Homo sapiens: one gene and its partners. The protein of the gene in region 3 purifies or fractionates together with the protein of the main gene of each other region. This does not show direct contact. Each region holds a gene or a part of one and is shown on either strand. Other genes may lie near its edges.

Evidence for each region.
Region 1: the proteins of CCIN (region 3) and CCZ1 purify together in Homo sapiens (affinity purification with mass spectrometry, with the first as the bait; one large-scale study listed by BioGRID). This does not show direct contact.
Region 2: the proteins of CCIN (region 3) and CCZ1B purify together in Homo sapiens (co-immunoprecipitation; one large-scale study listed by IntAct). This does not show direct contact.

The regions. Positions count from the first base shown.
Region 1 is NC_000007.14:5,901,670-5,905,318, reverse strand, and holds part of CCZ1 (vacuolar fusion protein CCZ1 homolog), read right to left. Parts: coding exon 3,615-3,649; intron 2,659-3,614; coding exon 2,575-2,658; intron 226-2,574; coding exon 50-225; intron 1-49. UniProt on the Homo sapiens protein: Acts in concert with MON1A, as a guanine exchange factor (GEF) for RAB7, promotes the exchange of GDP to GTP, converting it from an inactive GDP-bound form into an active GTP-bound form.
Region 2 is NC_000007.14:6,802,273-6,805,921, reverse strand, and holds part of CCZ1B (vacuolar fusion protein CCZ1 homolog B), read left to right. Parts: intron 1-866; coding exon 867-984; intron 985-3,649.
Region 3 is NC_000009.12:36,168,044-36,171,980, forward strand, and holds CCIN (calicin), read left to right. Parts: upstream 1-1,344; 5' UTR 1,345-1,459; coding exon 1,460-3,226; 3' UTR 3,227-3,291; downstream 3,292-3,937. UniProt on the Homo sapiens protein: Required for both nuclear and acrosomal shaping during spermiogenesis.

The DNA of each region.
Region 1 (3,649 bases), on a different chromosome or scaffold from region 3:
TTATTATCTTAATTTCTTCTTTTAATACCATGCCTCGGGGTGTACCTACCAGATGAGCTGATCGTTATAGAGAAAAGCAGTGTATTTGACTATATTCAGGCTTTCCTCCATTCTATTAATAAAGGACTGGATTTTCAAATAAGTCATTTTATCCAACGGGAAGAAGCTGATTCCACCAAAAATGTCAAGTAGGTCACATGACTGCAAATGTAGCGTTTGCAAATACTGTGGGAAAAAAAATAAGGCATAAAATTTACTAATAGTACACTGAATATAATGCTCCTTGATAACTGAAAATAATCTTATGTCAGACTCACATTTATGGTACAATTACATACTAGCAAACAGCGCAACAATGAGGCCGTGGTGAAGACATGGGTAACTGAGTGCCAACTCAGTCTCAGTACCAATTCCAAGATACAAAGTTCAAACATATCTACTTAATGTTTATTCAGTATTGTGTTTTACTGCTTTAAATTTATTTTTTTGTGACAGAGTCTTGCTCTGTCATCCAGGCTGGAGTGCAGTGGTGCGATCTCAGCTCACTGCAAGCTCCGCCTTCCAGGTTCACACCATTCTCCTGCCTCAGCCTCCTGAGCAGCTGGGACTACAGGCGCCTGCCACCATGCCCAGCTATTTTTTTCCATTTTTAGTAGAGATGGGGTTTCACCATGTTAGCCAGGATGGTCTCAATCTCCTGACTCGTGATCTGCCTGCCTCGGCCTCCCAAAGTGCTGGGATTAGAGGTGTGAGCCACCACGCCTGGCCAAAAATTTTTTTTTTTTTTTTTGGTATAGACAGAGTCTTGCTATGTTGCCTAGGCTGGTCTTGAACTTCTGGCCTCCGTGATTCTCGTGTCTAGGCGTCCCAAAGCGCTGGGAATACAGGCATGAGCCACTGTGCCCAGCTAGCACTTTCAAGTTTTTAATTCCTGGCCAGGCACAGCGGCTCGCGCCTGTAATCCCAGCCCTTTGGGAGGCCAAGGCGGGCACATCACTTGAGGTCAGGAGTTTGAGACCAGCCTCGCCAACATGACAAAACCCCGTCTCTAATAAAATTACAACATTAGCCGGGCGTGGTAGCCTGTAATCCCAACTATTCAGGAGGCTGAGACAGGAGAATCACTTGAACTTGGGAGACTAAGGTTGCAGTGAGCCAAGATCACACCATTGCACTCTAGCCTGGGTGACAAGAGTAAGATTCTGTCTCAAAAAAAAAAAAAAAAAAAAATTAACTCCCTGCCTTAATGCTCTTCAAATTAGACTAACCTAATGAGGGATCTATCCATTAATACTACAGAGAGTGCCATCTTTATTTCCCCCCCCGAGATGGAGTCTTGGTCTGTCACCCAGGCTGGAGTGCAGCGGTGTGATCTCGGCTCACTGCAACCTCGCCTCCGGGGTTCAAGCGATTCTCCTGCCTCAGCCTCCAGAATAGCTGGGATTACAGGCGTGCGCCACCACGCCCAGCTAGTTTTTTGGTATTTTTTAGTAGAGATGAGGTTTCACCATGTTGGCCAGGCTGGTCTCGAACTCATGACCTCAAGATCTGCCCGCATCGGCCTCCCAAAGTGGTGGGATCACAGGCGTAAGCCACCACACCCAGCCAAGAGTGCCATCTTATACTAAAATCATGTCTAAATGATATGTACTCAGGACAACAGTTCTATCCATATGTTGATGGGTAAGAGAGAAATGAGGACAAGAACAGAAACCAGGAGATAATATGCGAGTGGATAACTGTGGTCATTAAAATGACAAAACAAAGAAAAGTAATTCAGAGAAACAAAAAAATTCAAAAATAGCTATGAAAGCTGTTTTAGAAAGTCGAATTCAAAAATAGATACAGAAGGTATTTTCAGAAGAAAATAAATTGAGAATTGTTGCTTCGAGATAAACTAGGCTGGGCGAGTTGGCTCATGCCTTTAACCCCAGCACTTTGGGAGGCCAAGGAGGGAAGATCGCTTGAAACCAGCCTGGGCAAAACAACCAAGACAAGACCCTGTCTCTTTGTTTCCTTTTAAAAAAAAGATAAACTGAGCTTGACAAGGTAGGGTGAAACATGCAAAATTCAATTACAACGAAAGAGGACAGCACTTGGAACAAATCTCCCCAATCGCTAATCTGACAAAGTCTGTCAAGGCCAGTAACTCTTACCTACATCAAGACGGTTCACGCCCGTTTAGTGAACAGAACCAATCCCTGAGATTGTGCAACTCCAATAATTAAGTTTTCCTTATCAACTAATCTATCACACAAAAGATGGCTGCTGAGTAAGCCCAGAAGGACAGATGCAGGTAAAACACAGGGAGGCCAAACGATGTCTCCAGGACCCTTTAAGAGCCCCGGGCAAACGCAGGAAGCTCTGCCTTACACCACAGCTGGAGGGAAGGTTCCAGAGCACAAGCCTCATGCGTTTCCTCGCTGCTCCAGTTTTGCGACGGTCTGTCTCAGGCTCTTTGCCACTTTCAAGTTCTGGGTTTTTTGTATATAAGAAACAAACTTGTCTGTCTATATTTCTCTAAAAACCTGCTGAATGCTTACTAAAGTTATAAATGAAATTCAAAATACTTACCCGATGGAAGAATTTCTCTAATCTTTCTTTCAGAAGCTTGACGCCTCCGTCTTCCATGGCTTTCAGAAATGTACCATTAAAAAGCTAGTGAGGTAAAAGATTGCAGGAAAAAAAATCAGTTTCCTATGCTCACTTTTTCAGTATAACAAGTTCTTTTTTTCCTTTAGATTATTAATTCAGCTCATTAAATCTCCCAGTTCTTTCCAACAGAGAATATTTACATGAGAAAACTTGAGTTAAAAATGTAAGTTACAAAAAATACTGTTAAGTGATGCTGTCTTATTTATGAAACCACCTAATTGCTCTAGGCATCTTTCAAAAATTTCAACTTACCCTGAAGTTTCAATTTACATACATAATATCACCCACATTTCTGTTTTTTTATTTTTCAGTGTTCTGTTAATAAATGGAATCACCAAACTTTTTATCCTTTTTTTTTTTTTTTTTGAGATGGAATCTCGCTCTGTTGCCCAGGGTAGAGTGCAGTGGTGCAATCACAGTTCACTGCAGCCTCGACCTCCAAGGCGCGAGCGATCCTCCCACCTCAGCCTCCCAGGTAGCTGGGACTACAGGCATGCACCATGATACCTGGCTAACTTTTATAAAAATTTTTTGTAGAGATGGGTTCTTGCTATATTGCCCAGACTGGTCCTGAACTCCTGGGCTCAAGCAATCCTCCCACCTTAGCCTCCCAGAATGCTGAAATTACAGGTGTGATCCACTGTGCCCTGCCTCACTGAAACTTTTAAATCATAAAATTATCTGCATTCTGTACATTCCTTGAGCACATAGACACACTTTTTCATCAATGGGGACACATTCCTACTATAAGGCTGAGAAAAGAGAAGGGAGTTCAATACTTACTGAATAAATGTAGGCATAAACCTCACTACCTGTTTCAAAGGCCTCATTATTTTCTTCTCTAAGACAAATACAGAGTCACTTTGCAGTCATTTACAGATTTCTCTTTAAACAACCCTGGAGCCTAGAGATAGGGGTAAGTGGCTGGACTCTGAGTTGAGAAAGAACGCCACGCTTACCTTGTACATGCTGTAGCACTGCCGCAGCACCGAGC
Region 2 (3,649 bases), on a different chromosome or scaffold from region 3:
GGGGTTTCGGTTGTTTGGGGTTTTTTTGTTGGAGACGGGGTTTCACTCTTGGAGTGCAGTGGCATGATCATAGCTCACTGTAGCCTCGACCTCCTGGGTTCAAGTGATCTTCCCACCTTGGCCTCCTAAGTCGCTGGGACTGCCAGTACACACCGCCGGACCCAGCTAATGTTTTTGTGGTTGTTTGTTTAGACAGGGTCTCACTATGTTGCCCGGGCTGGTGTCAAACTCCTGGGCTCAAGCGATCCACCCATCTTAGCCTCCCAAAGTGCTGGGATTTCGGGCGTGAGCCCCCACACCCAGCCCATTAAATGATAAATGTGTTGTCATAAGCAATATAGAGGCATAGAGAGGAGCCCTGTTCCCCATCTGGGACCCCCCTGTCTCCTTAACTAGCCAGTGCTCATATTTTTTAAGTCCTAGTTTTCCCGCTAGTCAGCAGTAGAGTGTGGGCATCTTTCTGTGTCCCACCGACTGCGAGCTGGAGACAGCAGTGGTACCTCTCTCGGGGGGGTTCTGAGGATCGAATGAGGTCATGTCTGTGAAGCACCTGGCCCATGAGTGCTACGTAATGTTTGTTAAATAAACATACGACCTTCTGAGGTCTTTCTGGGGTAGGCAACCGTTTACCACCCTACAGGGTGTGCCTCGGTCAGCTTTTCACGGTGAGATAGGTCTTCGCCCTTTTTTCATCTGAAATGTAACCGGTTTTCTATCTTCTGTTTCTCTTCTATTTGAGGAGCAGAAGGGGGCCTGAGCATTCATTGTTTGTTTTCCCAGACCAGTGAAGTTTTCGTTTGAATACTGTTGTTCAGTGTCGCACAGTAAAATGAATCTTACTGGTATTTTTTGTCATGACTTGCCAGCCTCTGTCCACCCAACGTTGGATTTTTGCCGAAGACTGGACAGCATCGTTGGGCCCCAGCTCACAGTGCTGGCCTCTGACATCTGTGAACAGTTTAACATCAACAAGAGGATGTCTGGGTTTGTACTTTGCTTTCGGTTCACTTTCAGGCATTGAACGGCTTTTGAAATACACGTAGTTTTCACTTACAAATACGGGTGGTATTAACAGTCCTGTGTTCTCGTGGACTGTAGAGGATGGTGCTACGTGCCATTCAGGCCTCTGTCTGAAAGGGTCCCGGGGACAGTCACCCTGAGTGTTTCTGCCCCACGCTGGCAGCTGGGGCTGGGCCTTCTGGTAAATACCTTCCCTCAGCTCCCCCCGAATGGAACGTCCCATTTCACCAGCCCAGATTGTTACGTTCACTTGGACAGTAGTCATCGGCGTGGTCTTGGTGTGCACAGACTGAAAGCATTTTGCCTCTCGTTGTGTGAAAATGTGTAGGGGAAACTGGCTGGGATGTGGGGCACTGGGCCTGGGTACTCAGTCTGGCAGCCTGAAGTGTCTACACTGAGTGGGAGAGGCGGGATTCACTCCTCCGGCTCTCTAGACACTGAAATGTCCTTGAATTCTTTCTCCCTGGCTTTTTTTTTGAGACAAATTCCCACTCTGTCGCCCAGGCTGGAGTGTGCAGTGGCTTGATCTTGGCTCACTGCAGCCTCCGCCTCCCAGGCTCAAGCGATTCTCATGCCTCATCCTCTTGAGTAGCTGGGATTACAGGCGTGCACCACCATGCCCGGCTCCTTTTTGTATTTTTAGTAGAGACGGTTTCACCATGTTGGCCAGATTGGTCTTGAACTCCTGACCTCAAGTGATCCACCTGCCTCAGCCTCCCAAAGTGCTGGGATTACAGGTGTGAGCTACCGCACCCGGCCATGCCTATCTTTTCTCAATATAAAATAGTTATTATAAAGTGAAAGTGAGGCGATGGAAAGCACTTTGCGAAGTTGAAGTCCTGCTTTTAAATGGGCTCTCTACACATTTGAGAAGTTACTAAAAGGCTGTGAATTTCTGCATACGCTCATGGTCTTAATGTTCATACGTTGTTTTTTGGGTTTTTTTTTTTTTTTTAAGACAGAGTCTCAGTTGCCCAGGCTGGAGTGTGCAATGGTCTGTTCTCAGCTCACTGCAACCTCCGCCTCCCAGGTTCAAGCGATTCTCCTGCCTCAGCCTCCTGAGTAGCTGGGTGCCATCATGCCTGGCTAATTTTTGTATTTTTGTAGAGACTGGGTTTTACCATGTTGGTCAGACTGGTCTCGAACTCCTGACCTCGTGATCCACGCACTTCGGCCTCCCAAAGTGCTGGGATGACAGGCGTGAGCCACCGCGCCCGGCCCATATGTTATTTCTGCATGGTCTTGTATAACCGTGGGCCTCTAAGAGCGCAGAAGCGAGCAAAGGTGAAAGCACCTCTAGGTTTTGTACAACAGTGTGTGGATTACTGCTGTCAACAGCTTACATCTTTGTTGCTTTTTGTTTTTATTTTTTGAGACAGAGTTTCACTCTTTCACCCAGGCTGGAGTGCAGTGGCATGATCTCAGCTCACTGCAACCTCCAGCCCCTGAGTTCATTCAAGCAATTCTCCTGCCTCAGCCTCCCGAGTAGCTGGGACTCCAGGCGTGTGCCACCACACTCAGCTAATAATTTTTGTATTTTTAGTAGAGACAGGGTTTTGCCATGTTGGCCAGGCTGGTCTTGAACTCCTGACCTCAGGTGATCCACCCACCTCGGCCTTCCAAAGTGCTAGCATTACAGGCATGAGCCACCATGCCCAGCCAACAGCTTATATCTTGACAGTGCTGCTGAATCATTGAATCCTTTGGCCGTGAAAATACCAGGTTTTCCTTTGTGAAGGAGGCAAAAGTGAGTTAAATCGGTTTGGATCATGCAGGTTATCAACTAACAGATGGAAAGTGACAAAGTGTAGTGACCATAGAGAACGTGTCACCTGTTTTGTTTTTTTGTGGGTTTGTTTTTGGAGACAGGGTCTCCTGCTGTCGCCCAGGCTGGAGTGCAGTGGTGCAATCATGGCTCACTGCAGCCTTGACCTCCCAGGCTGTAAGTGAGCCTCCTACCTCAGCCTCCCCGGGAGCTAGGACTACAGGTGTGTGCCACCACGCCTGGCTAATTTTTGTATTTTTGGTAGAGGCGGGGTTTCGCCATGTGGCCTAGGCTGATCTCGAACTCCTGACCTCAAGTGATTTGCCTGCCTCAGCCTCCCAAAGTGCTGGGATTATAGGCGTGAGCCACTGCTCCTGGCCTCACAGAGTGTTTTGAGGATAGAAGCTTACACCCGATTTAAGTTCCTTGTCTACCCAGACAACTAAATTTACAACTCTTTCCAAACAGTTTTTCTTGTCATTATACTTTCCTTAACCTTAGGGAACTATGAAAACAAATTCTGGTTTTATAAGAAGTTTCTTTACATGTTCCTGGAAACTCAATCCTCCACGTTCTTTCTTTGCCTGGACGTAGAGTATTTCATGAGTACCCCATTGGTCCGGAGGTCGGATTTCTGGTACCCCCAGCCCTCCAGAACGTGGCTGCTAACCCTGAAGCAAGCAGAGGAGGCCTCTGAGCCCAGGGGCGGGGCTGTGCTCAGGCCCCATCCAGGCCCCAGGGTGGACACTGAGGGTGCAGGGAGGGGAGGGGAGGGGCCCCAGGAGCAGTGAGGCCCAGCTTTTCCCACTAGGTCCCCGAGGAGGTCACAGACTCTGACCTGGGAGGCAGCGTCGTAGCACTGCC
Region 3 (3,937 bases):
TGCACTCCGGCCTGGGCAAGAAGAGCGAAACTGTCTAAAAAAAAAAAAAAAGAGAAATCTCAAGCACTGGTCTTAGGAGCAGTTTAGGGAGGGTTAGAATCTTGTAGCCTCCAGCTACATGACTCCTAAACCATAATTTCTAATCTTGTGGCTAATGTTAGTCCTACAAAGGCAATCTAGTCCCCAGGCAAGAAGGAGGTCTGCTTTGGGAAAGGGCTGTCTTTGTTTAAACCGTAAACTATACATATAGGTTTCTCCCAAAGTTAGTTCAGCCTTTGCCAAGGAATGAGCAAGGACAGCTTGGAGGTTAGAAGCAAGATGGAGTCAGTTAAGTTGATCTCTTTCACTGTCTCAGTCATAATTTTGCAAAGGCTGTTTCAAGCTGAGATCGCACCACTGCACTCCAACCTGGGTGACAGAGCGAGACTCTGTCTCAAAAAAATAAAAATAAAAATAAAAATAAACTCATAATAATCTTTGAAGTGGGTACTACTATCAAATATTAGTTCCATCTCACAGAGGAGGAAACTGAGGTTTAGAAAGTCTGATCAACTCGCCCAAGTCCACCTTTGATGGAGAAAGCTGACCCACTGAAGCCCCCAACATTTTCCAACTGGACACTTGGAAATGTTGGGGGAACATTCTAGTTTGCCAAGGAGCTGAAATCATCCGGTCTTTAAAGACCCTCCCATGCCCCCGTTTGTGGTTAACTCCTTCATCCCTGCTCCAGGGAGTGGCCTCCACCTCTCCATTTTGAAGGAGAATGATGTCTGTGGCCACCAAGGTCAGAAGCCAAAGGACAGAGCTTTTCTCTGATGCCCAGGAGCCTTGGCAGGAAGAGTGCTTGGAGAGTTGAGAGTCAGAGACTGGGGAAAGCTGGGTAGTCAGGAGCTTCCAGAAGGGTAGGAAGAATGCGAGGTTCCCCAGGTTCTGGGCCCTGCTCGGCTTCCAACTGGCTATGTGATTTTGGGCAAGTGCCTTCTCTTCTCTGGGCCTCAGTTTCCCTCAAAATGGGAGGATTCTTCTAGGTCTAATAATCTCTTCCCTTTCCCCACCTCCCCTTATCTCTCCTACACAAACTGCTCCCCACTGCCCCACCCAGACTGGCTCTGATATTCCAGAAGCCTTTAACTACGGTTTGAAAGTCCCAGGTGGAAGTTGCCGCCCATCCCTGAGGTTCCTCCTGAGCTCTGGGCCCAGGGCTTTAGGTCCTGCTAGGGTATGTGGCCTTGGCAGGTTGGAGAGATCAGAGGGGAGGAAGGCCCAGTGCCTCTGAGACAGGCCTCAGGGAGGCCTGCATTGTGATGACCTGATCCACTCTATGACATCATCCTCTCTTCCACCCTCTCTTCTCCCTGGTCAACCGCTCTGCAAACAACCATCAATCTGATCCCACAGGCCTGAGAAAGTCTGCTCTCCAGTACCTGCTGCTGATCTGTTTCAGCCGACAAGAGGCACCATGAAATTGGAATTCACGGAGAAAAACTACAATAGCTTCGTGCTGCAGAACCTGAACAGACAGAGGAAACGCAAAGAGTACTGGGACATGGCCCTGAGTGTGGACAACCACGTCTTCTTTGCACATCGCAATGTGCTGGCTGCTGTCTCCCCACTGGTGAGGAGCCTCATCTCCAGCAATGACATGAAGACCGCTGATGAGCTTTTCATCACCATTGACACCAGTTACCTGAGCCCGGTCACAGTGGACCAGCTTCTGGACTACTTCTATAGCGGCAAGGTGGTGATCTCCGAGCAAAATGTGGAGGAGCTGCTTCGTGGGGCTCAGTATTTCAACACACCACGCCTTCGAGTTCACTGTAACGACTTCCTTATTAAGTCCATCTGCCGTGCCAACTGCTTGCGCTACCTCTTCTTGGCTGAGCTGTTTGAGCTCAAAGAGGTATCAGACGTAGCTTACTCTGGCATTCGGGACAACTTCCACTACTGGGCCAGTCCTGAGGGCTCCATGCACTTCATGCGCTGTCCACCTGTTATCTTTGGCCGCCTGCTCCGTGATGAAAACCTTCACGTGCTCAATGAAGACCAGGCGCTCAGCGCACTCATCAATTGGGTGTACTTCCGGAAGGAGGATCGGGAGAAGTATTTCAAGAAGTTCTTCAATTACATCAATCTCAATGCTGTCTCCAATAAGACGCTGGTGTTTGCCAGCAACAAGCTGGTGGGCATGGAGAACACCTCATCCCATACAACCCTGATTGAGAGTGTCCTGATGGACCGCAAGCAGGAGCGGCCATGCAGCCTGCTGGTCTACCAGCGGAAAGGGGCCCTGCTTGATTCCGTGGTCATCCTCGGTGGCCAGAAGGCCCACGGCCAGTTCAATGATGGAGTGTTTGCTTATATCATCCAGGAGAACCTGTGGATGAAGCTCTCAGACATGCCCTATCGGGCAGCAGCACTTAGTGCCACCTCTGCTGGTCGCTACATCTACATCTCTGGTGGCACCACTGAGCAGATTTCAGGGCTGAAGACAGCCTGGCGGTATGACATGGATGACAACTCCTGGACCAAGTTGCCTGACCTGCCCATCGGGCTTGTCTTCCACACCATGGTGACCTGTGGGGGGACAGTGTACTCAGTGGGCGGGAGCATTGCCCCAAGGCGGTATGTCTCCAACATCTATCGCTATGATGAGCGGAAGGAAGTCTGGTGCCTGGCAGGAAAGATGAGCATCCCCATGGATGGCACCGCCGTGATCACTAAAGGAGACAGGCATCTGTACATTGTCACTGGACGGTGCTTGGTGAAAGGTTATATCTCCCGGGTCGGGGTAGTGGACTGCTTTGACACCAGCACTGGGGACGTGGTCCAGTGTATCACCTTCCCCATTGAGTTCAACCATCGGCCCCTGCTCTCTTTCCAACAGGACAACATCCTCTGCGTGCACAGCCACCGGCAGAGTGTGGAAATCAATCTGCAGAAGGTGAAGGCAAGCAAGACGACCACCTCAGTGCCTGTCTTGCCCAACAGCTGCCCCTTGGATGTGTCCCATGCTATATGCTCCATTGGAGACAGCAAGGTGTTTGTATGTGGGGGTGTCACCACTGCCAGCGATGTCCAGACAAAGGACTACACCATCAATCCAAATGCCTTCTTGCTGGACCAAAAGACAGGCAAGTGGAAGACCCTGGCTCCTCCACCAGAGGCACTGGACTGTCCTGCCTGCTGTCTAGCCAAGCTACCTTGCAAGATTCTTCAAAGGATTTAAACATTTTAAGTGGGAGAATAAGTAAATGCATTATTATTCACGATTTAATGAGAGAAAGAGAGGAAGATGGCCTGTTGTTTCCTTCTTAGTGTTCCAGTCCATGCTTGGCCCTGAAGGTGGAGATCCTAGGGGAGGGCTGCTCCCAGTGGGTGGAAACTCAGGGCCACTATGTCATTGGAGGTATCCAACAGGGCCTGGAAAGGAACCCCTGGTGGGTGGAATTGAGGCCCCTCCCAGGCACTGGCCAAGGCGATGTCTGTCCCCTATTCTGTACCCCTGTGATCACCTCTCAGGCATCTGCTAGATTGGCAGGTAAACATCCACTCAGAGCTGTGAAGCATCAAGCTCCTCCAGCACCTGCTTCCCTCCGGTCTTTCACAAAAGCAGGGGAGGACCCGTCCCAGGTCTGAGAGAGGAATCTCATGGCCAGGAAGGAGAAGGTGACCTGGGTAAGACTCAGAAAAGAAGGCAGAAGGAACAGGGGAGGCAAGGTTACTTAGCTTCTGTATTTGCCCATGCAGCTACGGTAGTTTGTGTCTCATTTGTGGGAAAGCTGGAGGTTCCTTACAATTGTTTCTACTAAGCCAAGTACATTGAGAACTTTCTCCAGGAATATGAGTCTGAGGGACTGGGGATAAAAGAGAGGCCAGTAAAGGGAAAAGAAAGAAACATATCCTGGTCGGGCACAGTGGCCCATGCCTGTAATCCCAA